Linked DNA regions of Homo sapiens: regions 2, 3 and 4 are each linked to region 1. Evidence: fine-mapped expression QTL. A gene starts in region 1. Each other region holds a variant in brackets. All regions are shown on one strand. Distances are between the middles of the regions. Region 1 holds the start of DEF6 (DEF6 guanine nucleotide exchange factor). Region 2 overlaps ZNF76 (zinc finger protein 76). Region 3 overlaps DEF6 (DEF6 guanine nucleotide exchange factor). Region 4 overlaps PPARD (peroxisome proliferator activated receptor delta).

What was found. PIP is the estimated chance that this variant, and not a neighbour inherited with it, causes the effect.
Region 2: its variant is fine-mapped to the expression of DEF6 in whole blood (INTERVAL, PIP 0.93).
Region 3: its variant is fine-mapped to the expression of DEF6 in whole blood (TOPMed, PIP above 0.99).
Region 4: its variant is fine-mapped to the expression of DEF6 in whole blood (INTERVAL, PIP above 0.99).

The regions. Positions count from the first base shown.
Region 1 is chr6:35,295,745-35,300,744 of GRCh38, reverse strand. It overlaps DEF6 (DEF6 guanine nucleotide exchange factor), which reads right to left and starts at 2,927. Exons shown (of 11, transcript NM_022047.4): 1 at 2,793-2,927. The coding sequence starts at 2,888. ZNF76 (zinc finger protein 76) reads right to left here. Exons shown (of 14, transcript NM_003427.5): 14 at 4,760-5,000. RefSeq lists a silencer at 4,426-4,590.
Region 2 is chr6:35,264,246-35,270,333 of GRCh38, reverse strand. All of the region lies in intron 1 of ZNF76 (zinc finger protein 76), which reads right to left. Among named protein-coding and RNA genes, the nearest start is that of ZNF76, 7.6 kb to the right of the region's middle. The variant C/T (reference allele first, on the strand shown) is at 2,253.
Region 3 is chr6:35,317,858-35,324,082 of GRCh38, reverse strand. It overlaps DEF6 (DEF6 guanine nucleotide exchange factor), which reads right to left. Exons shown (of 11, transcript NM_022047.4): 6 at 6,084-6,192; 7 at 5,612-5,910; 8 at 4,393-4,559; 9 at 4,066-4,264; 10 at 3,109-3,199; 11 at 2,312-2,896. The coding sequence ends at 2,673. Among named protein-coding and RNA genes, the nearest start is that of PPARD, 22 kb to the left of the region's middle. The variant A/G (reference allele first, on the strand shown) is at 2,414.
Region 4 is chr6:35,409,954-35,416,021 of GRCh38, reverse strand. PPARD (peroxisome proliferator activated receptor delta) reads right to left here. Exons shown (of 8, transcript NM_006238.5): 3 at 4,805-5,035. The coding sequence starts at 4,934. Among named protein-coding and RNA genes, the nearest start is that of FANCE, 39 kb to the left of the region's middle. RefSeq lists enhancers at 4,301-4,833, 4,834-5,367. The variant G/T (reference allele first, on the strand shown) is at 2,700.

The sequences.
Region 1 (5,000 bases):
CAAGAACTCACAGCCCTCAACTCCTGGGAAGTTTTGTGTTCAACCTAAATCCATCCTGGGCAGGAGTGCCATTCCTATTGGTTTACTTTCTCTGTTCTCAACCCAACTGGATGAAGCCATTGTACTTTCTACAAGAATTCAAAGAGAGAAAGAAGTATCTGGTTTTTCCCTCAAGCCTTCTCTTTTCCAGGAGAAACAACCCTACTCCTTGGGCTTTTCTCAGAGGACGTGCTGTTCTTCCTCCTACCCTCTGGCCTCATCGTGGGTTTGCCCAGGACAGCCACTGGGAGCCCGTCTACCAACACATTAGGGGAGAAGTGGCAAATGTCACGCACCGACACATCTTGCCCTGGGCTAGTGCAGGTCTCTTGCCAGGTTCCAACCCAGGACCCTAACGCTAGGGATGGTTTTAGTAACCAGCCCAGTGAGGTGGCTCAAGACTATAATTCCAGCTACTCAGGAGGCAGAAGCCAGAGGATCACTTGAGGCCAGAAGTCTGAAACCAGCCGGGGCAACATAATGAGACTCAGGCTCTAAAAAATAAAAAATAAAAAAATTAGCCAGGCGTGGTGGCATGTGCCTGTAGTCCCAGCTACTCAGGAGGCTGAAGTAGGAAGATCGCTTGAACCCAGGAGTTTGAGGCTGTCGTGAGCTATGACTGCACCACTGCACTCCAGCATGAGTGATAGAACAAGATCTCATCTCTAAAACAACAACAAAAAACCAGATTGACTCCAAGGTCTTTTCCCTCATCCCCAAGTCTTTTCTGGGGAGAGGTGGGCCCTGCTTGTATAACTCTCTCGTCTGCTTCCTCCTTTGCCTTTTGACCACTTCTCTATTACTCCTTTGCTTTGCTGGAATCCCCGCCCCCCAACACTATCACTACTTCCTCCTCTTCCAATATTCACTATTATGGGCTTGAAAGGAGCCCCGCCATTTCCGCCCCACCCCCACTTGGCCCCTGAGACTCCCACTGTTAGCCCAGGTTTCCAGAGTTGACAAGTTTTCTGTCAAGTAGGAGGGAACTCTATAATTGATCCTGTGTGACCAGAGATGTTGCTGGCAGTAGGTTCAATATGAGCTGTGATGAGGTACAGACAGTGGACAGTTCAAGCATGCAAGCTCTCCATGGAGTATTTCCCTAGAAATACGCAACCTGTGGGGATGAGGGAGTGGGTAGTGGCCCTTTTAGAGGGCAAGACAGAGGCTCAAGCTAGGAGGCTTTACTGGCTGATGGCACCAGGAAAAGGGGAGCCACTTAAAGGCTGTACTTTCCATGTGAAGGGCAGAGAGAGCCTGGAGAGGTCTCAGTGGCCACAGGTAATACAGAAGTGGAAAATGTTACCCTGGAAGCAAAAAGCCACGGGGGCTGGTATTGTCTGGCAAGATATTAAAGGGACAGGGTGGGAGGTAGGGGTGGGACACAGAGTTTGCAGAAATGGATTTTGGATGATCGACTTTTTTCCATTTATACTGAGGACCCAACCAAATGACATGATCTGCAATACAAGAGATTTAAATAGGATGTAAGGAAGAATCTGCCTGTTAGGAGGTTCTCCCTAGGTGACAAAAGATAGTAGTGGGCTCTCCTTCCTGGGGGAGTGAAATCATCTATTAGATGCTCACAAATCCAGGTAAGGAATTTAACATAGGACCAGTTTGGGATATTCAAGTTCCTCACATCCAAGTTCAGTAAAGTAGGGGGTTGGAACGGTGGTGGGGCACAATAACTGTTCTGTCCCATTCATCTCTCAGGTATCCAGCACCCTCTACCTCGGTCATTAAGAATGGAGGTTTCCTTGAGACCACACGTCTCCTTTGGAGGATGGGGCAGGGAGACACCAGTTTAGTGCCTAGCCACATGCCAGGCACAGAGCCTCACGAGGGGCACTCAAGTACTTGCAGAGTGAACGAAGGCACCCCTATGGCAGGTCCTAGAGAGCTGAGGCCTACCTTGCTCCTTTCCCCCAGTGTTCGCTGATTCTAGTGGCTGAGGGCCTTGCTTCCTCCCCACTAACTAGGGTAGGGAAGGCAGCACTACTGGAGGACTAGAGGAAGAGAGAGAAAAACTCCTTGGCCTCCCAGAAATTGTCTAGGCCAGATGATTGACTTCAGGACAATCATTGATTGGGATTTTCCTGGGCTTAGATTCTCCCCCTTCCCTACCTGAGGTCTCAAGGCCTAAGGTAAGTTTCCCAACCTGATATGTGTGGTGGATAGGGGGGTGAGCTGCGTAGCAGTATAATAGGGTCCTCAGTCCTCACCCACTCCGCAGCTCTGTCCCACCTGGCGGGCAGGGTTAGACAGGCCAGACAGGTTTGGGACTGGGGGCGGCCCCTTTATGCCTCTCTCAGCTCCAGAGGAAATGACTGCCAAGCACTGGCTAACTGTTTCTCTTGAAAGTCAGGAGGAAGCAGCAAGAAAGAGCACACTGCGTGCCCAAGCATGACTCTGTGGAGGTGTGTGTGCTCATCACACAGAGTCTGGGATGTGGCCTGGCTCCTGGCCCTCAGAACCCCATAATGGCCCTCAGAACCTCCTGGCCTCCAGTTGTGGGGCCCAGTTCTGCGCAAGGTTTCTGCACACACTTCACTAGGTCTCTGGAGGGTGGGCAGCGGCATCTACCAGGCTACGTTGGCCCAGTTACCCAGGACCAGCCCCCCGACCCCAGGCCCGGGACGCTGGATGGCTGGGTGCCCCTGGAGTGGCACAGTGTCCACACCTGGCTCCCAGGCGGCAGGGGCTGGTGTGGTGCATCTGCCGTCCTCCCCCGGGTCCCGGGTGCCCCTCACCTTGAGCTGGGACTTGGAGACTTTGCCACTCTTCTCCACGTCCAGCGCGGTAAAGGCGTACCAGATGGACTTGAGCAGTTCCTTGCGCAGGGCCATGGCTGAGGCGCCCGCCCGGCTGGGGGCGGCTCTGACACTAAGATCCGGTTTCAGGAAATGCAAACGGCTGCAGAGACCGCAGAGGTGCCGTGGTGGAGCGAGAGCACCACCTGCCTGCACATTGCGTGAGGCTCTGTGCTGTCGAGAACCCTGCCTGTTGTTCTGGCAGTGCTCAGAGGCTCCACTCCCTGCATGGGAACTGGGGACCAACTCTCCGAGAGCGGGAACCCTCGTTCTGTATCCACGTGGCTCCCGGGGCATGTGAGGCCCTTTTAGAAGCCTCCTCAGACCCGGAGGCTTCTGGAGCCTTCCAGGGCTCCCAGACGCAGCTTGCTGAGGGAAAAAGCAAGCTCATCCTGATATTGGGGTCAGACAGAGTAAAGGTCCAGTCCTAGTTCAACATAGGAGGCCTTGGGTAAGTTACTTAACCTCCTTGAGCAGTTTCCTCATTTGTAAAGCAGGAAAAATGCCTCCGTGTTGTAAGAATGTCTGAGAATGGACGTAAAGCACATAGTAGGCTCTGGGTAGAGCTTTTGGTGCTACTTAACATTACCATGGTGGTGGGACTCCATCCAAGTGGAAGGAAACAAAGGCAACATCACAAAGCTGGAGAAGGAAATGGGCCAGGGCACCTCTCCAGGTCAGGATGTGGCACTTGACTTGCTGGCTCCCTATCCCCTCAGCACTGGCTCTAAACGGTACTCAGAGCACTGCCCACTCTAGCCCCAGTAGCCCTGAAGACACTGGAAACTTCCTGAAACACATGGGGGTGAGCCTTGTGGTGCACCTCAACTTTAAGGGTCCCAGCAGCAGCAGGCTTGGGATTCAGGGCCCTCCATGTCAGTGCTTCCTTTCTTCAGATCCAGTGTCCAAAAGGACTGGGACACGCCCACACCAGGAATGGTGGTCACAGATGTTGAAGACATCTGCTCAGGCCAATTCTAAGACACCTCCCCCTACCCCCTAAGCCAAATAAAAATCCCTCCAAGTAAGGTGCTGGGAATACCTCCTGCCTGGAAGCACGCCCCCGCCCCTCTCTTCCCAAGGAGCTGGTGGCAAGAGTAAATGGGAGCTTTCTAGGCATCCTGGGAGAGGATGCCTGGATCAGAGGAGGGGGTTCCAATCCTAGGAGGCAGGAAGGGGTTGGGGCATATCCATCACAGCAGAGAGAGGAAAAGAGGCACCACCAATCCCTGCAATGTTCCTGTGTAGGCAGAGTCAAACCCAGAGCTTCTTCCCATCAAGTGCCTTCCCCTGTATCCCTTCTTCCCCCTGGAGCTGATCTGGTCTCACCAACTCACTTTTCAGTGGGGTCTGATTGTGGCTTTGAAATCCCACAGCACAGTCCTAGGCACCTAGGTGGGCACCCCCAGAGCTGGGTAATAGAGCCAAGACTTCAGCTCCAGAGGCATCAGACTCTGCTCCTTGAATCTCAGTAACCTTGGCAAAGGTGTCCCCCAGCCTCACTCTAACCTGGGGCTTTGCCCTCTTGGAGAAGCTGACTGTGTGATTTGGGGGTGGCTGGGTTGGAGGGGCTCTGACTACGTTTCACAAGAAAAGGCAGGAAAAGAGTTCCCCCAGCTCAATCACATGAGGCCTGAGATTCAGCCAGAGCCTGGAAGCAGCGGTCACCCTGGTCCTGTTTGGCTACCCTGGAGCCCACCTGCTCAGCTGTGGGCAAGAAGCCACCAGCAGCTCCTCAGGGCTTTATCTTATACTGGGCTTCCTTCCCACCTGTGTCCCTGGCAGGCCAGCCCCACCACTCTGGCACCAAGGCTGAGTGGGGTTTGTGCCAGGGAGACAGGGCTGATAGCCTGATTTGACCAACCCTGCCACCCGGGCCTAGAGCTGAAAGGATGGAGGGACCCAGGTGGAAATTTGGAACTTTTATTAAATACTCATTCATCCATGTGCCACCACCACCCAGAGCAGGAAAAAAATTATCAAAATGGAATTAAAAAAAACAAAACAAATCAAACCCAATCCCCAGCAGTCTATGTACAGGGCCACTCCCTGCCTCTCTGCCATAGAGAGGTTGGGGGGCAGCTGAGGAGTGGTGGGGGCTGGGCACCTTTTCTTCAGCCACAGGCCCCTGAGGAATTAATTGACTGT
Region 2 (6,088 bases), 31 kb after region 1:
GAAACCCCATCTCTACTAAAAATACAAAAATTAGCTGGGCATGGTGGCACGTGCCTGTAGGCCCAGCTACTTGGGAGGCTGAGGCTGGAGAATCACTTGAACCCAGGAGGCAGAGGTTGCTGTGAGCCAAGATTGCACCACTGCATTCCAGCTTGGGCGACAGAGCAAGACTTGGTCTCAATAAAAAAATAAAAATAAAAAAAGCCTTGAGAATGTGTTACCTACGCAACATAAATAAAAAATTAAAAATAGAAAGTCTAAATGCATGCTTTGTACTCCCTTTGTTGGTTACAGGAATATCTATGATTCTCCATACATGAGGAATGGAGAGTCCAGTGTTGATATGATGGATTCCATGTTACTGATCTACAGCAAAAGCACATCCGAAAACTGAGCTTCGTGATTCATGGAGGCCATTCTATAACATCATATGGAAAGCTGATCAGCTGAGCATGAGGCAACAGCAAGTCTATACAGGACCTGAGGACATGGTGGCTTCAACATGTGTGTCCCCAGCCTGGTCACAAGGGTGGGTCTGGACGAAGTGGTGGCCTAAGCAGGGTCTACCTTTCCCCTTCATTGCTCCATGTGGCCACAGGACAGTATTTCCTGGGTTGAGAAGATGATCTCAGAGAAAGAACTCTGGTCTTAGGCACCCCTGCCAAATCCCCAACATCAAAGCCTCAAGTCAGTTCTACAACCTCAAAGAGCTCCCAGTTCCTTGGTTCTTATCTTAACTGTATGGGTCTCATGCTTTATCAACCATCCAAAAGTAGCAGGAACTCCCAACAAATGAAGTGATGAAGTGAGATAGTACCAGGGTAACAAGTTGTATCTGGCCTTCTTAGGGATGAACTATTCACCAGAGGGCCAGCTCTAAGGGAATGTCAAATAGAGGCACTAGAAAAGAGGCACTCTGGCTTCCAGGTAATGACAGTATAATGAGCCTGAGACCCCGAATGACCTGTCCAACATCACAAATCCTTCTGATTCTGAACTGGAAGAGAGGAGCCTGAGTACGCCTCATACATTTTTTTTTTTTTTTTTTTTTTTGAGACAGAGTCTCGCTCTGTCGCCCAGGCTGGAGTGCAATGGCATGATCTTAGCTCACCACAACCTCCGCCTCCCAGGTTCAAGCTATTTTCCTGCCTCAGCCTCCCCAGTGGCTGGGACTACAGGCGCCTGCCACCATGCCCGGCAAATTTTTGTATTTTTAGTAGAGATGGGGTTTTACCATGTTTGCCAAGCTGGTCTCGAACTCCTGACCTCAGGTGAACCACCCGCCTCAGCCTCCCAAAGTGCTGGGATTACAGACATGAGCCACCACACCCGGCTGGCCTCATACTTTTGCCAGCAAAAGAGACAATTGCATAGGATTTGTGAGACCATCACATTTCTATATCTTGACTGATAGCTGCCAGGGTAAAAGGCATTTGAAGTTTGTTGGCAGCTTTAGGAAACAGCACTCAAAACAGGTTAGGGCCATCTGTTAAAGACAATGGCTTCAGCTGCACTTGGATTTGTATTGCAGGTGGTTTTTTTTTTTTTTTTCTCTCTTTTTGAGATGAAGTCTTGTTCTATAGCCCAGGCTGGAGAGCAATGGTGCGATCTTGGCTCACTGCAACCTCCGCCTCCTGGGTCCTGGTTCAAGCAATTCTCCTGCACGCCACCATGCCCAGCTAATTTTTGTATTTTTAGTAGAGATGGGGTTTCACCATGTTGGCCAGGCTGGTCTTGAATTCCTGACTTCGTGATCTGCCCATCTCAGCCTCCCAAAGTGCGGATTACAGGTGTGAGCCACTACACCCGGCCAGGTTTCGTTTTTTTTGTTTGTTTGTTTTTTCTTTTTTCACTCTCCAGGACAAAATTTCCCCATTCCATTACGTGGTAGATGTTGACTATGTCTCCTCTAAACTAATTTTGTGGGTGACTAATTTTGTCAATTAGGATGAGCTATATCTTATACTCTTATCTGGTCAAAGAGACTCTCCTCACGATATAAACGTAGACATCTAAATGACACAAGAATAAACACAGCCACAGGGACAGTTTCCAGATGCAGTTAAAGGGTTACACTGCCACGGAGTGTGTTTTCCTTAACACCTGACTCTTTTAGGGGAAAATAACATTCTTACTTTCTGTTACAGTGATTATAATTTAAGTTCCTGGAGAGCATGCCTTTCAGCCTAATTAGCACCTAACAAAGAATGTGCCCACAGATACCAAATGATTAATACTACTAGGTTACATAG[C/T]TAACTGAGCTCTTTAGCTCAGATTTGAATCCTGATTCAGTTCTGCTTATTGTAATATCTAAGTTGAACTCCTGAGACCAGATATGAAACTCTTCATCTACCACAGAACTGTGAGCTTCTAAGAGAAGCTCCTGGCAAGGAAGTAAATGTTGAACGAAAGAATGGAGGAGGGAAGGAACTGAAGCCCCCACCACTCCAACCCTTCCCAACCACTCCCAACTCTTCCCTAGTCCAGCTAAGTGGATGACTTTTCCCTCATCGGGATTACCATCTTGCCTCATCTTTGACATGCACGTTCACTGTTTCCACGGAGACCCAGATCAGGAACAAGCTTTCCCTGGCTAATGTCACACTCCAGCCCCATGTTTCGTCTGCACTTGGCAGTGAAGCCACAACAGGGGGTTGTCTGCGGTGCTCCCTGAGGGCACAGATTCGTCTTCTCCATCATCGTATCCTCATGTGACATAGTGCCCACCACATGGCAGGCACTCACTGGGTATTACTTCAGCGAATGAAGGAAGAAATCTTATTGCCAATACCACTACCTGGTGTAGAACTCAGCAGTTTCCAAAATGCTCTCAGATACACATATATTATCATGTTTATTCTAAGCACTTAATTCATCAACTCCCACAATAGGAGGGGCTGAGAACACAACTCATTCCTAGTCTAAAGTGGTCATTTTGGCTGGGTGTGGTGACTCATGCCTGTAATCCCAGCACCTTGGGAGACCGAGGCAGGTGGAGGCTTGAGCCCAGGAGTTCAGGACCAGCCTGGGCAGCATGGTGAAACCCTCTCTACCAAAAATACAAAAATTAGCTAGGCGTGGTGGTGCCCATCTCTGTAGTCCCAGCTACTCAGGAGGCTGACATGGGAGGACTGATTGAGCTGGAGAGGTCACTGCTGCAGTGAGCCTCCATGATTGCGCCACTGCACTCCAGCCTGGGTGACAGAACAAGACCTTGTCAAAGAAACAGATAAGGGGCCGGATGCAGTGGCTCAAGCCTGTAATCCCAGCACTTTGGGAGGCCAAGGCGGGCGGATCACAAAGTCAGGAGATAGAGACCATCCTGGTTAACACGGTGAAACCCCGTCTCTACTAAAAATACAAAAATTAGCCGGGCGCGGTGGTGGGCACCTGTAGTCCCAGCTACTCAGGAGGCTGAGGCAGGAGAATGGCGTGAACCCGGGAGGCAGAGCTTGCAGTGAGCCGAGATGGCGCCACTGCACTTCAGCCTGGGTGACGAGCGAGACTCCGTCTCAAAAAAAAAAAAAAAAAAAAAAGAAATAGACAATAAAATAAAATAAAGCAGTCATTTTGCAGATGAAGAGACAGAGGCCTGCGTTGCCAGAGGAGTCCCAAAGGATCACATAGCTACCTGGTGGCAGAGCAGGGCCTAACACCTGACCACCAGTGTTCTTCCCATACTCCGCTGTCTCTTGCCAGGTGATGGTGTTCTTTTATTTCCTGAGAGTAGACATTTCCTAGGCTCCAAAAGACTTGAATATCCAGCTGCTTACTCAACATCTCGACTTTGATATCCAAAAAACACTTCGAACTTGACATGTTCAAGAGTGAATTCCTTATCTCCTCCTTCTAACAACCTGCCCTCCTTCCAGGCTCCCCAATTTCAGTAGATGGGAATTTTACCATTTTGTTACTTAGGCCAAAAATGTGGGAGCCAGGCAGATCACGAGTTCAGGAGTTTGAGACCAGCCTGGCAAATATGGTGAAACCCCATCTCTACTAAAAATACAAAAATTAGCCGGGTGCGCTGGCATGCACCTGTAGTCCCAGCTACTCAGGAGGCTGAGGCAGAAGAATCACTTGAACCCAGGAGGCGGAGGTTGCAGTGAGCTGAGATCACGCCACTGCACTCCACCGTGGGCGACAGAGCGAGATGTCTTGAAAAAAAAAAAAATTGTAGCCACCCTCAACTGCTATTTCTTTTATATATCACATCCAGTCCATCAGCAAATCCTGTTGGCTCCTTTCCAAATACATCCAGAAGCCAACCACTTCTCACCTTTCCATTGCTTCACCTTGGGTTCAAGCCACCAACTTCTCTTGTTTAGACTATTGTAGTAGCCTCCTAACCAGTTTCTCTCCTTCCATTTTTGCCCCGTTATAGCTTATTCTCAACACAGCAGCCACAATGACCTTTTCAATATGTCAGGCCATGTTATTTATCTGCCTAGAATTCTCTAATGGCTACCATCTCACTCACAACTCACACTACAAGCCAGTGGCCTGTGTGATCTGCCCCCAATTCACCCCCACCGCAACATCTGCCATTTCTTCTCTCACTAATATACTGCAGCCGTATTGGCTGGCTTCCTCATGTTTCTTGAATATATAGGGCACATTCCTGCCTCAGGGCCTTTGTGTTTGCTGTTCTTCCTGACTGGAATAAATTTCCCCTAGATGTATGCTTGACTTACCCCCTAACTTCCTTCAGGTCTTTGCTCAAATGTTACCTTTTTAGTGGGAACCTCTTCAACTACCCTATTTAAAATTTTAACACCCAGAATCCTGGCATTTTCTTCTTCTTCTTCTTCTTTTTTTTTTTTTTTTGAGACAGAGTCTCGCTCTGTCGCCCAGGCTGGAGTGCAGCAGCGTGATCTCAGCTCACTGCAACCTCTGCCTCCTGGGTTGAAGTGATTCTCGTGCCTCAGCCTCCCGAGTAGCTGGGATTACAGGTGCCTGCCACCACGCCTGGCTAATTTTTGTATTTTTAGTAGAGCTGGGGTTTCGCCATGTTGGCCAGGCTGGTCTCAAACTCCTGGCCTCATGTTATCTACCCAACCCAGCCTCCCAAAGTGCTGGGATTACAGGTGTGTGCCACTGCACCTGGCCTACTCCTGGCACTTTCTATCTCCCTTCTCTGCTTAATTTTCTCAATATATATTTTACTTATTTGTTTATTGTCTGTCTCTACCCTGTCCATTCCTCAAACAGTGAGCTCACTGCTCTATTCCCAGTACCTAGAAAAGTACCTGGCACACAGCAGATATTCACCAAATATTTGTGGGATGAATGAATCAGTGAATGAATGAATATATATACCTTTAGGATCTCCCAGTAACTTGAAACCTTTAGGCAAGAAGGGGAAGACCCTAGTAGAGCTCTGGTCTCTCTCCAGCCCTCAGTCCCTCTTTCCTCCTTACTGCCTCACCCTCTTCTCAGGTCCAGTCCAGCCCTATTCCACCAGAAACCATACCTAAGCTGAGAAGCAGTGCAACAGGTGCTTGATGCCAGGATGTTACAATTCCCAGGCCACTAGGTACAGAATTCTGCAGGGTGCTAATTTTTAAATTTAGCATCCTGATATCTCACAAACAGAAGAGGTCAGAGAAAGGTTAGGACTAAATATACTACTTAACCTAGATAACAGTACTGATTCAGAAACAGTAGCTCATTTGCTCTGAGGTGTTTTCCAAGGAACAGTGCTAAATTTGCACTTGTTCACCTAGCTGCCCCTGCCTTTAATCTTTTTATAATGGATTTCCAACATACACAAAAATGGAAAGAATGGTATAATGAACCTCTTGAACCCATTATCCAACTTCAAAAATTACCAACATTTTGCCTCCTTGGTTTCCTCTGTTCCTTAATCGTCTCTGCAACCCACACTAAATATTTCAAACTAGCTGTTTTCTTGAGAACAGATTTATATAAGACAGCCCCTGATGCTGTTACCACTGTATTTGAGCAACTGCGTCAAACAACCTATCTTACCAGAAATACAGTAGAAAAAGAAAAGCACTTACACCCATTCCCCCACCCGAGCAATGACTAAAAAAGGAAGTGTCTAAATTACCGACGTTTAAATCAA
Region 3 (6,225 bases), 23 kb before region 1:
AGCTTCAACCTCCTGGGCTCAGGTGATCCTCCCACCTGAGCCTCCTAAGTAGCTGGGACTACAGGTGTCTGCTACCACACCCGGCTAACTTTTTTTTGTATTTTTTGTAGAGATGGGTTTTCGCCATGTTGCCCAGGCTGGTCTCAAACTCCTGAACTCAAACAATCCACCCACCTTGGCCTCCCAAAGTGCTGGGATTACAGGTGTGAGCCACTGCACCCAGCTGCCTTTATTAAAAAGTAAAGGCCATCCCAAATCCCAGCTCCTACCTAAAACTTCCTTTTCTCTGAATTCCTACAGCACTTTGAGCTTCACCGCTCATCCTTGAAATCTGCCTCATTATATTAGCAGCTTTGTTTCACGACACTTTAAATAGACTGTAATGAAGTTCCTTGCAATCAGGTTTAGTGTATTTGCAAAGTAAATCAGGTGCAGTGGCTCACACCTGTAATCCCAGCAATTTGGGAGGCTGAGGCGGGCAGATCACTTGAGGCCAGGATTTCGAGACTAGCCTGACCAACGTAGTGAAACCATGTCTCTACTAAAAGTACAAAACAACAAAAAAATGCCAGGTGTGGTGGCACACGCCTGTAATCCCAGCTACTCCAGAGGTTGAGATAGGAGAGTCGTCTGAACCTGGGAGGTGGAGGTTGCAGTGAACCAAGATCAGGCACTGTGCTCCAGCCTGGAGACTGATCAGGCACTGTGCTCCAGCCTGGAGACTGATCAGGCACTGTGCTCCAGCCTGGAGACTGATCAGGCACAGTCTCCAGCCTGGAGACTTGGTTTCAAAAAATCAGATAGCACATAAACTCCAGGAAGGCAGGGACTCTGTTTTTGTTCTGTACAATATAGCCAGAAGCTGGCATATAATAAGAGCTTAATAAACATTTGTTGAATGAGGGCAGAGTGCATTGGCTCCTGCCTATAATCCCAGCACTTTGGGAAGCTGAGGCGGGAAAACTGCTTGAGCCCGGGAGTTGGAGGCCAGCCGAGTTTTGTAGAGACCCTGTCTCTTGTAGGGACCTGGAAAACGAATGAACTTGAATTTCAGCTGCTCTATAACTTTTTAGCTTTGTGACACCTGAATTATTCACTTCAGAATTTATTCATTCATATATGTATTTGACAAATATTTGTTGCATGCCTTCTAAGAGCCAATCACCGTGGCTCTTAGTTCAAGAAGATATGTCCCTGCCCTTGAGGGGCTCAAGCATTTAGTTATGAAGGCTGTTACAAGGATGGGGGAAAGGAAGTCAGTGTGAGGCCTAGAGGGAGCTGCAAGTAGCTCTATAAGGCAGAGGCATAGGAGGCCCTCCTGGGACAGATCGCCATGGGCCTCATCTGCCACATATGGGAATGTGAATTTAAATATCAAAACTCTAGGATACCACCAAGGGACTGGAAATTAGGAAGAGTGAAGGACAAATCTGCATTTTAGAAATCCTATCCAGGTGGCAATGGGGAGAGGGGTTGACAAGGAGACCTGGTTACTGCTCTTATCTAGTTGGGAAGTGACAAGAGCCAGAATAAGGCAGTAGCCATGACAGACATGGCCTCAAAAGTGTGGATCTGAGAGTAACCAAGGAAGTCCAATCAGTTGGACTTGGTGAGATGGGCAAGACGGAGGAGGAGTTAAAGGTTAACAACCAGGTAGAAAACACAAAGGCCTCAGCCATGGCAGTAGCCATGGGGATGGAAAAGGAGGGACAGATAGGAGAGTAGGAAGGAGAGAGTCTATTGGATTTGATGATGGGGTTTGGATGAGGGGGCTGAGAGAGAGGACATGAATCTTCCTAAATACCCAGATCTCTGTCTTGGCTAACAAGGTCAGCGAGTCAGAGATGATGGGAAGAAAAGCAAGTCTGAAAGGCTTTGGTAAAGTTGCCAAATCTCTCTGAACCTCAATTCATCCATTTGTAAAATGCCAATGGTGATTTCCAGCTCTAAGAGTTGTCATGAGAATTAAATAACCTGGAAAACTGCAGTAGACACTCAATAAACACTTTTGGCTGATTCTAATAATGGTGCTTGCTCGTGTGCCACTTAATCCTCATATAACCCTATATGGTAAGTACAGTCATTATCTCTATTTTACCAACGTGGGAACTGAAACACAGAGATATAAAGAAAATTGACCAAAGTCAATCAGTTAGTAAGTAGCAAAGCCAGGTTCAGAACCCAGGCAGTCTAGCTGCAGGGTCTTTCTTAACCACTTTATTATACTTTTACTGCTCTTTGGAACCTATAACGGGGCTTGAGGGAGGAAGGGAGGAAATGGCAGGAGAGATGGACAGACCTGAGCCAATAATTCATTCTAAGAGCAGTTTTTATTTAGAAATGTGCTTCCACAACTTGGTGGCCACCTGGGGGCAGGTAGCCCCGGCTTGCTTGTTCTCTCTTTCCTAGCCCA[A/G]GAATCGGGTCCTTGGGTCTAAAGCACAGGGCCAAGTTCTCAAGGATCAACATCCCAGACAGCTCCCATGGTCTGGGGCTTGGAGCTGGTATGAAGGGTGAACCAGGTTCCATCCTGGACTGTTTATGGTTGGAGGGCCTGGGCCCCTGGCACCAGGACCTCAGCTCCCTCTCCTAGTAAGAGCTGGGATCACCCACAGGCCAGCTGTGGCCAGGTCCTGGTGGATATGACATTGGGAAGAACAAGGGGCTAAGAGAGGCTAATTTTCTGGTGCTGGATCCAGTTTATCTTCCTGAGGGGTGGAAGCCGGGGCAGGAGCCTCATCCCCACCATTGAGGGACTTCTGCTGCTCATTGCTGTTGGGCGAGGGGGTCCTGTTGCCCTGGGATCCCCAGCGGGTCAGGCGCTTTAGGGAGGAGTCACGGTGGGCAAGCAGAGGGGGCTGGAAGCCTGAGAAGGAGCTGCTGGTGACCGGACGCTTATCTGGCAGAGAGAAGGCAGGCAAGTAAGGAGAAAGGCATGCAAAGGTGAGAGGCGAGGGGCCTTGCCTCAGCCCTCAGAGGAGAGGGGAGCCTCCTGACTGCCAGTCCTGCTTTTGCTGGCCCTGGGAGATCTGGAGGTCTCCCAGGGAGACCTTTCTCCCTCCTTTCTCCCTCCCAGCTCCAGGGAAAGCTCCAGAGTCTATTCCTTCTCACCTCCAGGCTCAATTGGATGCATCAGCCGGTTCATCTGGACATTCCAGTGTTTCACGTTGGTGCTGGCCTGGCGCAGTTTTCTCTGGGCAGCCTGTGGGGACAGGGCCAGTGGGGAGTGATCAGAACCATCATCCATGGCATGGAGTCTTGATCTTTTCAGGTTCGCAGGCTGCTTAAAATCTGACCAAGACTACTGATCATCTCCCCAGAGAAAAACCATATATGCTCATAGAGTTATTAATACATACATGAATAGAGTTTGCCTCCAATTTCATGGGACTCATGGACTTCCAAAAGATAAAATGTAACCATAATAATAGTTTCCGTTTATTGAGCAGCTAAGATGTGCTAAGCATATTTATTATCTTATTTAACTTCCAGAGCAGAAGTTAACAACAAAAAAGTTCAAAAGAGGTTAAGTGACTTGCCCAGGGATACACTTGAGCTCTAAGCCACTGCACTACACCACCTTTCCAGCACCTAATCCAAGAACCTCTGTTCAACATTTCACGGAGCCATTAGCAGTGGTTGTGAGGTGGGGGGGATCATGGAGGAATTTTCCCTTTCTATGTTCCATATTTCTGTGTTTGAATTTATGGAGATTAAAGCTCCAAGGAGTAGAGCCAAAGTACAAGGATAGCAAGACAGGGGCTTGGAAGGGTAGAAGGAAAAATTTTTCCCCAGATTAATAATGATGTGAACAAAGATAGCAGCAAATGTTTCTTCAGCACTTACTACGTACTAAGTATCATGTATCATCTCATTTAATCTTCATAACAACGCTATTACCAGTTTCCCAGGTGAGAGACTAACTCCAAGAAGTTTGGGCATTTGTCCAAAGTCACACAGCCAGCAGCTGCTAGGGCCAGGGTTTGAGGGAAGGCAGCCTGGCTCCAGAGCCTGTGCCCTAATGAGCTCACCCTGCCAGCCTCCACCCCATCCCACCCCAGGCCTCACCTCCACATCCTCGTCAGCCCTCTGCCGGTTCTGCCGCACCTCCTCCAGCTGCTGCTGGGCCTGCTGCAGGGAGCGGCTCTGCTGTGCCATCTCCTGCTGCAGCTCTTCCTTCTCCTGCTGCGCCCGTTCGATGTAGCGCTCCTGCTCCTCCTTCAGCTGCATCAACTGCTTCAGCTTCTCTTCCTCCTCTTCCAGCAGTCTGCCGGGTGAGTGTGTACTGTGTAGCCTCTAGTGCCAAGGCACCTTGCAGGTGCACAGCAAGCAGGAAAACTGGGGTGTGTTCCAGGAGGGGTGGTGAGAGAACCAGAAGAGGTTCCTCAGGCCTACCTGGTCTGAGCGATTCGCACAGATTCTTCATCTCGCCGAGCTTTCACCTCTAGTTGCAGGGCCTCCTGCAACCGCTGCTGCATCTCCTCCAGCTCCTTGATGCGCTGCCGCTGCCGGGCAGCCTCCTCCTCCTTCAGCTCCATCTCAGCCTGCATGGAGGCCCGGGCCTGTGGAGGGGGGAGGTGGTGGACCAAGAGCCAGGTCAAAAGGGGCACGTGGGGGCGGAGGAGGAGGGGGTGGGCATGTTGCTAAGCTGCCTAGGGGTGAGGGTCTGGGGAACTCCTTCATGTTGGGGTTTCCTGATCTGACCCCTTTCTGAGAGCCTGACTGGAACAGATAATGGTCGGTGAACAGATGCCACGTGGGGGAAACGGGCTCAAGTTATTTCCTTCCTAGTACCAACCTTAATCATAATTATATAACATGTAATTAAACAACATTATATAATTAAATAAGATATAAAAATATGGTCATCTCCTTCCTAGCACTAACTTAATAATTATTATAATATATAATAATATGTTATAATCATGGCTGATGCTAGGAAGGATGTGACTATAACTACAATTATTACAACAAAAAGTTACTGGACACTACAAGTGTTTCCTCATTTAATCCTCACCGTACCTCTGTGAGCAAAGTTCTATTAGCATTAGCATTTTACTGATAAGGCTCAGTAAAATGAACTTGCCTGGGATCACGGGGCTCGTAAGAAGCAGAGCTAGGATTGAATCTACGTGTTTCTGACTCCAGATCCAGGTTTCTTAAATCCTAAATCTAATTGCCTCTGCACACCTAGTCCGCCTCCATACGCGTCCCGCTTGCCTCTCAAACTGGTTTCACTGTAAACTTAGTTCAAGTCTAGTCCAAACTTGGTCCAGTCTAATCCCCAATCACACGGTCTTCAACGGCTCCTTCTGCCCAAGCCCCAACCCACAGCCAAGGTCTCCGAACCAGGCCCCATCCATCCACGGGCTCGGACCTCGCCCCACACCCCTTTCCTAGCCCCAGGTTCTGTCCCTGGCGGAAGCCCCATCCCAAATCTCTTTTTCAAACCCGCGGACTCTGTCCCAACAATCCCTCATTTCAAGCTCCACCCCAGTGCACGCCCCTCAACCCAGGAGCTCCGCCCTCTGCCCAGGCCCCGCCCCCGGCGCTCCGCCCCTGGCCAGCCTCCCAGCCCACCGGTCCCGTCCCCGGCGCCGGGAGCTAACCCCACCTGCTCCGCCTCGCGCAGTTGGCCCTCGAGCGCCTGCTGCAGCTCGCGGTGCTGGCTGCGGCGCCGTTCCTCCTCCTCCTGCAGCAGCCGCTCGGCCTGCCGCTGCGCCTCCTGCAGCAGCTCCAGCTCCTGCAGCTTCCGCTCCTTCTCCTCCTGCAGCTGCTGCAGCCGCAGCAGCTCCTCTTCCTTGGCCGCCCGGCGCCGCTCCCGCTGCTCCCGCTGCTCGCGCCGTTTCTGCTTCAGGTCCTTGTGTAGGGACGTCTTCCCCTCGGCCTGCAGCCGGATCGCCATCTGGATGGCTGCCGAAGAGCGGGAGCGGGTCAGTAGGATCCTCGCACACGGCCCGAAAGGGGCCTTAGGAGTTTCCCGAGTCCACTCTCCAACCTCCCGCTGGACAAAGTATTATCACCCCCTTTTCACAGATGAGGCGCCTAAGGACCACCCAGACCCAAGCCACCTAGCGAGCACTCACCAGCTGTCCACTCCTGGCGCTGGCGCGTGTCTGAGGCGCTCATCTCATACGTGCGGTTGGCTGTCTTCACACAGAACATGCAGCGCTTTCCGTCGCGGTCTGGCAGCACCTGGCACAGGGTAGGTGGCCGCAGCCAGGCTGG
Region 4 (6,068 bases), 110 kb before region 1:
GAGTGGCCCTCATCCAACAACTGAAGGCCTTAAGAAAAAAGACTGAGTGCCTACCGTGGCCCCACTGTGGAACAGGAAATTCTGCCTCCAGGCTGCCTTTGGACTTGAGCTGCAACATCAACTTCCCCGGCTCTCCAGCCTGCCTGCCTTTCAAAATTTGGACTTGCCACTCCAACAACTGTGTGAACCAATTCGTTAAAACACATCTCTTTCTTTCAACACACACACACACACACACACACAGGTTCTCCTTCTCTGGAGAACCCTGACTAATACAGTGACAGAGCAAGAATTATAACCTAGAACCATGCAATTCCTGGAGCTGAGCTCTTAACCTCGGCATCTCACTACTACGCATACCTACATGTTCAGTACCGCTAATCAATAACATTATTATGATGAACAAGAAGACACAGTCACTGCTGAGGAGGCACCATGTCATTATCCAAATGTTTGGATTCAGTGTAAACACTAGCCCTCTCACCCAGAGAGTAAAGTATCAGTTTCACCATCTTTGATGACAAGTTCAGCAAATAGACACTATTGACCTTATTCACATCATTTGTGGCTGAGAGCTCTCCTGCATATCTAGCCTCCAATGCTGGGAGAATGCCGTTGTCATGGCTGTGAAGACAGCCAGGAGGCGCCCGATTGGTCTATTTACTTTGCTGGCAGAGCTCACAGGCAAACAAGCACCCAGCAGCTTCTGAAGTCAGGCCAAATTCTGCAGGGATTTGAGGCTGGGTTACTGAGCAGCCTCTTTACTTCTGCTGTCCTGTTTGCCTGAACTGTGGGCTCCTTGGGACAGGCACTCAGCCTTGTCCACCACTGTATGGCCAGCCCTGGGCACAGTGCTGGGCCCAGCCTGATGCCCACCAAGTGCTTGCCAAGTGAGGAGGTGCTGAGGCCAGGAGGAAGGACACTTTATCTTCCTCTTTCTCAAGGGTGATTGGGATGGATGTCACTGAAGCAGGAGGGATGAGAATGGGAATGGGAGGTGAATCCTGGCTCTAGCTGTCTCTACTCCTACACGCCCAGGGGACCCTGGCAAGTGGGTTTCTGGTAACCTCAGTTTCCTTGTTGATGGGAAGGTCTGTCCTGCCTGGCTGGGGGGAGGGTGAGAAGGTGCATGGCAGGTGTTGAGCTCAATATCTGCACTGAGAGTCAGTGCTGAACTGCTGAGGAGGGTGGTCAGGGGTGACTGTGGAGCCTTCCTGCTGTTTCAGGGCTCAAAGCTGTGCGCTGTCCTTATGGGTCCCTCAGGGGACTCCCGAGGCCAAAGTAATAACTCATGGGGATGGGGCAGAGAACTAGCAGGTGCTGAGACCTGCGATGTGTCACATACCCCCACTGACTCTCACCTGGCTGGCCCTCAGGCTGGGTAGGACACAGCCTATAAAGGTGAAGAGAATGAGACTTGGAGAAGTGATGGCACTGGCGAGGGCTACAGCTCACAGTGACAGACCTGGGATGCCTGCCCTGGTCTCTGTGATCTCCAAGCCCTTCTGCTCTGGACACATGATCAGGCTCTGTCTCCAGGGCCCCTCACCTGCCAGATCCTCACCCCCCTTTTAAACAGTTAATTTTACCCTTAAAAAAAGTACAGTTGCCTTTCAAATTATGGAAGTAGTGCAGACTTGTTGAGAAAAACACAGAAGGGTATGCAGGATCTTATGACACAGCCTCCTTAACCATGATCCTGCTCCTCAGAGTTAGCCCCTGAGTCCTTCGGTATAGACTCTTCCGGTGCCTTCTATGAAACATAAGGATTTTAAACAATGGGATCCCCAACTTGTCAGGAACTTATTTAATATATATATAAACCAGCCTTATCCTTTTCAATGACTCCAGAGTATTCCACCATATGGCTCTACCACAGTTTACATAACCAGTTCCCCACAGATGGGCACGTTCCTATTTTTGCTCTTATGAGCAGTCCTGCAGTAAATAAGCTGGCATGGGAATCTCTGAGCATGCTGAGCAAGTACTTACACAGGACACGTTCCTAGAAGTGGGAATGCAGGGTAAAAGAAATGCACACTTGGCCAGGTGTGGTGGCTCACACCTGAAATCCCAACACTTTGGGAGGCCGAGGCGGGAGGATCACCTGAGGAGTTCGTGACTAGCCTGGCCAACACAGTGGAACCCCATCTCTACTAAAAATACAAAAATTAGCCAGGCACGGTGGTGCACGCCTGTAATTCCAGCTACTTGGGAGGCTGAGGCAGGAGAATCGCTTGAGCCCGGGAGGCAGAGGTTTCAGTGAGTTGAGATCGTGTGCCACTGCACTCCAGCCTGAGCGACAGAGCCAGGCTCTGTCTCAAAAAAAAAAAAAAAGAATCACACATTAAGAAGTGTTGGCCCACACTACCCTTTCACCCCTGGTGGTGGGAGGACCAAGTCCTCCCCACCCATCTGACAGGTGAAATGGCATTGCAACTTAAGGTGCTTTCTTTGAGTTGGTTAGACTGAAAAACCTGTCGGGATTTCAGGCCATTCGTATTTGTCTTACTGTTACCTGTTCTGATTTTCCTGCTAGGTTGCTTGTCTTGTAGAATTTTTGGGAACTTTTCATACACTACAGCTTTAACACAAAGTGATTATGTCAAGTAACCCTCTCTCCTGTTTCAATGACTGAACAAGGAAGTCTATCTCCACTTCATCCACTTATTGATAAACAGAATCTATTAAACACCACC[G/T]CCTACATAGTACCATGTGACTGGTGAGGCAACCTCTGCCCTGGACGTTTCCCGCTGTGCCCTAAATCCCACAACGAAGCTGCCTGAGAGGTCACCGCCATGCCTGCCTCACCCTACCCCTGCTCCCAGGCACCTCACCTGGCCTGCACGGGAACAGTGATGCTATTTGGGAAACAGCCCTGGTCCCAAGAAGGGGTGTGGAGGAAACTCCAGGACAGAACACTGCTCTGCAGGGGACTTCCATCTGCCTGGGCTCAGATGTGGGGATGAGGTGGGCCACGGCAGGCGGCATAGCCACAAACCCTGTGGCCGTCTCTTCTCCTTGCATTCTCCCCTGAATCCTCATGACATCCCACACTCATTCTTAGTCCCCACTGTCTTCCCTTTGCTTTCTAACCCTCCCTACCTTCTTCAGATTTAGAACAGTATGTGCTACTGGCACTGAGTGAATTATCACTCCTGGTTAGCTGTTCCTCTCTTCTGAGACAGGCTGTGTCTCCAAAGCCATCCCAGTTACCAGCCAATAGACAGGAAGTTGCTTACTCGGGGAATGGCGGACACCTTCACTTTGGCCCTAGAATCACATTTGGCCTACTTTGGTCACTCCCAGGTGATCCTGGGTGAGATGAGAAGGACTGAATGATGGCTCTATACTCCCTCCACCCAACTCTATACACTGAAGAGGAAGAACTTCTGCAAAATTCTGGGACTTGCTTTGCAGGTTCAAGGTGGTGTGGCTCCAGGATTCAGACCCATCTTAGCTGCAGACCCAAACAGGAGCCTGCGCTACCTCCACAGCCTTCACCCTGCCTTAGCTTGGACACTAACTGCCTCCTCCTGCTCCATGCAGTCACAGGGGTCCAGAGCCCATTTCTGCGGGGTGGGCTTGCTCCTCTGCCTGAGTCACCGCCTGTGGCTAGGATCTCCTGCAGCTGAAAGCAGCAGCGAGTGCAGGGTGTCTACTCCCAGCAGTATATCCTTATGACCCTGAGTTCCCTCTAAGGGGAGGAGCGAGGATGAGCTGCATGTGCAGGCCTGCAGCACTTGGGTAAGGAGAGAAGTGGTGGGAGAAAGCAAGAAGCAGAGGGATCAGGCCAGGCGCGGTGGCTCCTGCTTGTAATCCCAGCACTTTGGGAGGCTGAGGTGGGTGGATTGCTTGAGCCCAGCGGTTCGAGACCAGCCTGGCCAACATGGTGAAACCCCATCTTTACTAAAAAAATACAAAAATTAGCCGGGCGTGGTGGTGCACGCCTATAATCCCAGCTACTCGGGAGGCTGAGGCAGGAGAATCACTTGAACCCAGGAGGCAGAGGTTGCAGTGAGCTGAGACTGTGCCACTGCACTCTAGTCTGGGCAACAGAAGGAGACTTTGTCTCAAAAACCACAAAAACAAAAAAGCAGGGGGAACTGCAGCAGGGAAAGCCAGGGGCTGCATGGATTCTGGGTGCTTTTGAAGGTAAACATAACATGATGATGATGAAGATGACAGAACAGTACAGGGTACTAGAGAAAACTGTCTGCACTGCTGATAAATAAAGGGGAACCAATAAGTGAGACAGGAGAAGCTACAACTGCTTGGCTGCATAAAAATAATATTAGTTGAGTTATTCATACTAACTGCTTAGCATTTTTATCTAATTATGATACGGCTCAATGATGATGTGTATAATTATTACCAGACCAATTGAACTGTGTGTTTCGACTGATCATAACAATCCCAGGTACAGCTGATCTTTCTAGTGTGCTGTTAGTGGAGATTGGTCTCAGATGCCTTGTGTTAACAGTGGTGGGAATACTAATAATGATGATGACATGTGTTACAGATGCCCACTCATTTAATTCTCACGAAAGCCCATATCCACATCACCTACCATCCTTTGGCCTGTTTTACAGAAGGAAGTGGTGCAGCTTGCTCCAGGCCCCACTGCTGGTGAGTGGCAGAGCAGATCCCCACCGCACTGGGCGTGAACCCAGGCTTCCGGCTCCAGTCCTTCAGCACTCTGCTACTCTGCGCCCCACATGATGGCGTTTGCAGAGGGCCAGGATCCCCACTGCACTGGGCTGTGCCTCCTCTGCCCCGTGTCCCCTGCCAGTCCTCTCCTCACCTGTGTAGCTGCTGGAAGGAAGTGCATGCTGTGGTCCCCCATTGAGCTCTGGGGCTCCTTCTGCCTCTGCCACTTCCTCTTTCTCCTCCTCTTCCCGGACCTCAGGGGCTTCCTCCTGTGGCTGCTCCATGGCTGATCTCCCCTCGGCGCCACACCTGCAGGCCCAGTCATAGCTCTGGCATCGTCTGGGTCTGAACGCAGATGGACCTCTACAGGGTGGTTCCCATCAGCCTGGGCAGAGGAGAAGACAGGAAGAGGTCAGGGGAGGCAGTGACAAGGAAGAGGATGGTGCGAGTGGGGCACGCTTGGGGGCTGCTGTCATGGAGGGGGTTCTTCTGCTCCTGCTCCTTCCCTAGTTCCTGCAGTGCTATACCATGGTCTCTGCTCCTTGTATCACAAGTCACCTGCCCTATCACCCTTCCCACCTGGCTCTTGTAGTGGGTTTGTGGGGTTCGGAGCAGGCTCCATAAACTAGAGAGGTGACACATCACTGTGCCACCCTTCCCTGCCTCCTCTGCTGCCTTCTGTTCTGAGTCTCCAGGAAGCACATTGGAATGACTTGAGGGGCTTTTCCCAACTCTCCAGCCCACCTGGAGATCCAGATATGCATCACGCCTCCCATCCCCGACCCTGTCCCTATCAGCACTCAGGCCCAAGAATCACGGCTCTGCTGTGCTACTGTTCCTGAAGGGGTGAGTCCCATCCTTTCAGTGGTTGGGTGTGGAAAAAAGACATAAAGCCCTGCTGTTCTTGGCTCATGTTGACAGCAGATCTGCAACCATGGCCTCAATAGCAGAGACATCAGAAAAAGGAAGATGTGCTCCATCCTGGAGTCTTTCCAAGGTGACAACTTACTGGGTGGTGATGCCACGTCCACATCACCCAGGAGGAGACAGTTCCAACCCTTAGCAAGTAAAACATTATCCACAAATGCCACAGTCAGAGATGATAAGATCATGAGGTACTGTGGAGAGTCTCCCAGCGGGGAAATGTCTGCACCAGACCTTGTGGAAGGATCAGGAGAAGAAAAGATCTGCTTTAAGATGTTAAGCATCTGTGGGACCCCAACTCTCAGATATTTTACCGACAGCTCAAACTCAATCTATCCAAACAGAACCCATCATTTTCCCCAAACCCATTCGTCCTCTAGTAATCTTTACTTTAGCAACCCACCTGCCTGTCTACCCACTCATCAGAACCAGAACCTGGAGTGATCAGAGACTCCTTCTGCTCTCTCTCCCTGCTCTAGACCTGCCAACTCGGC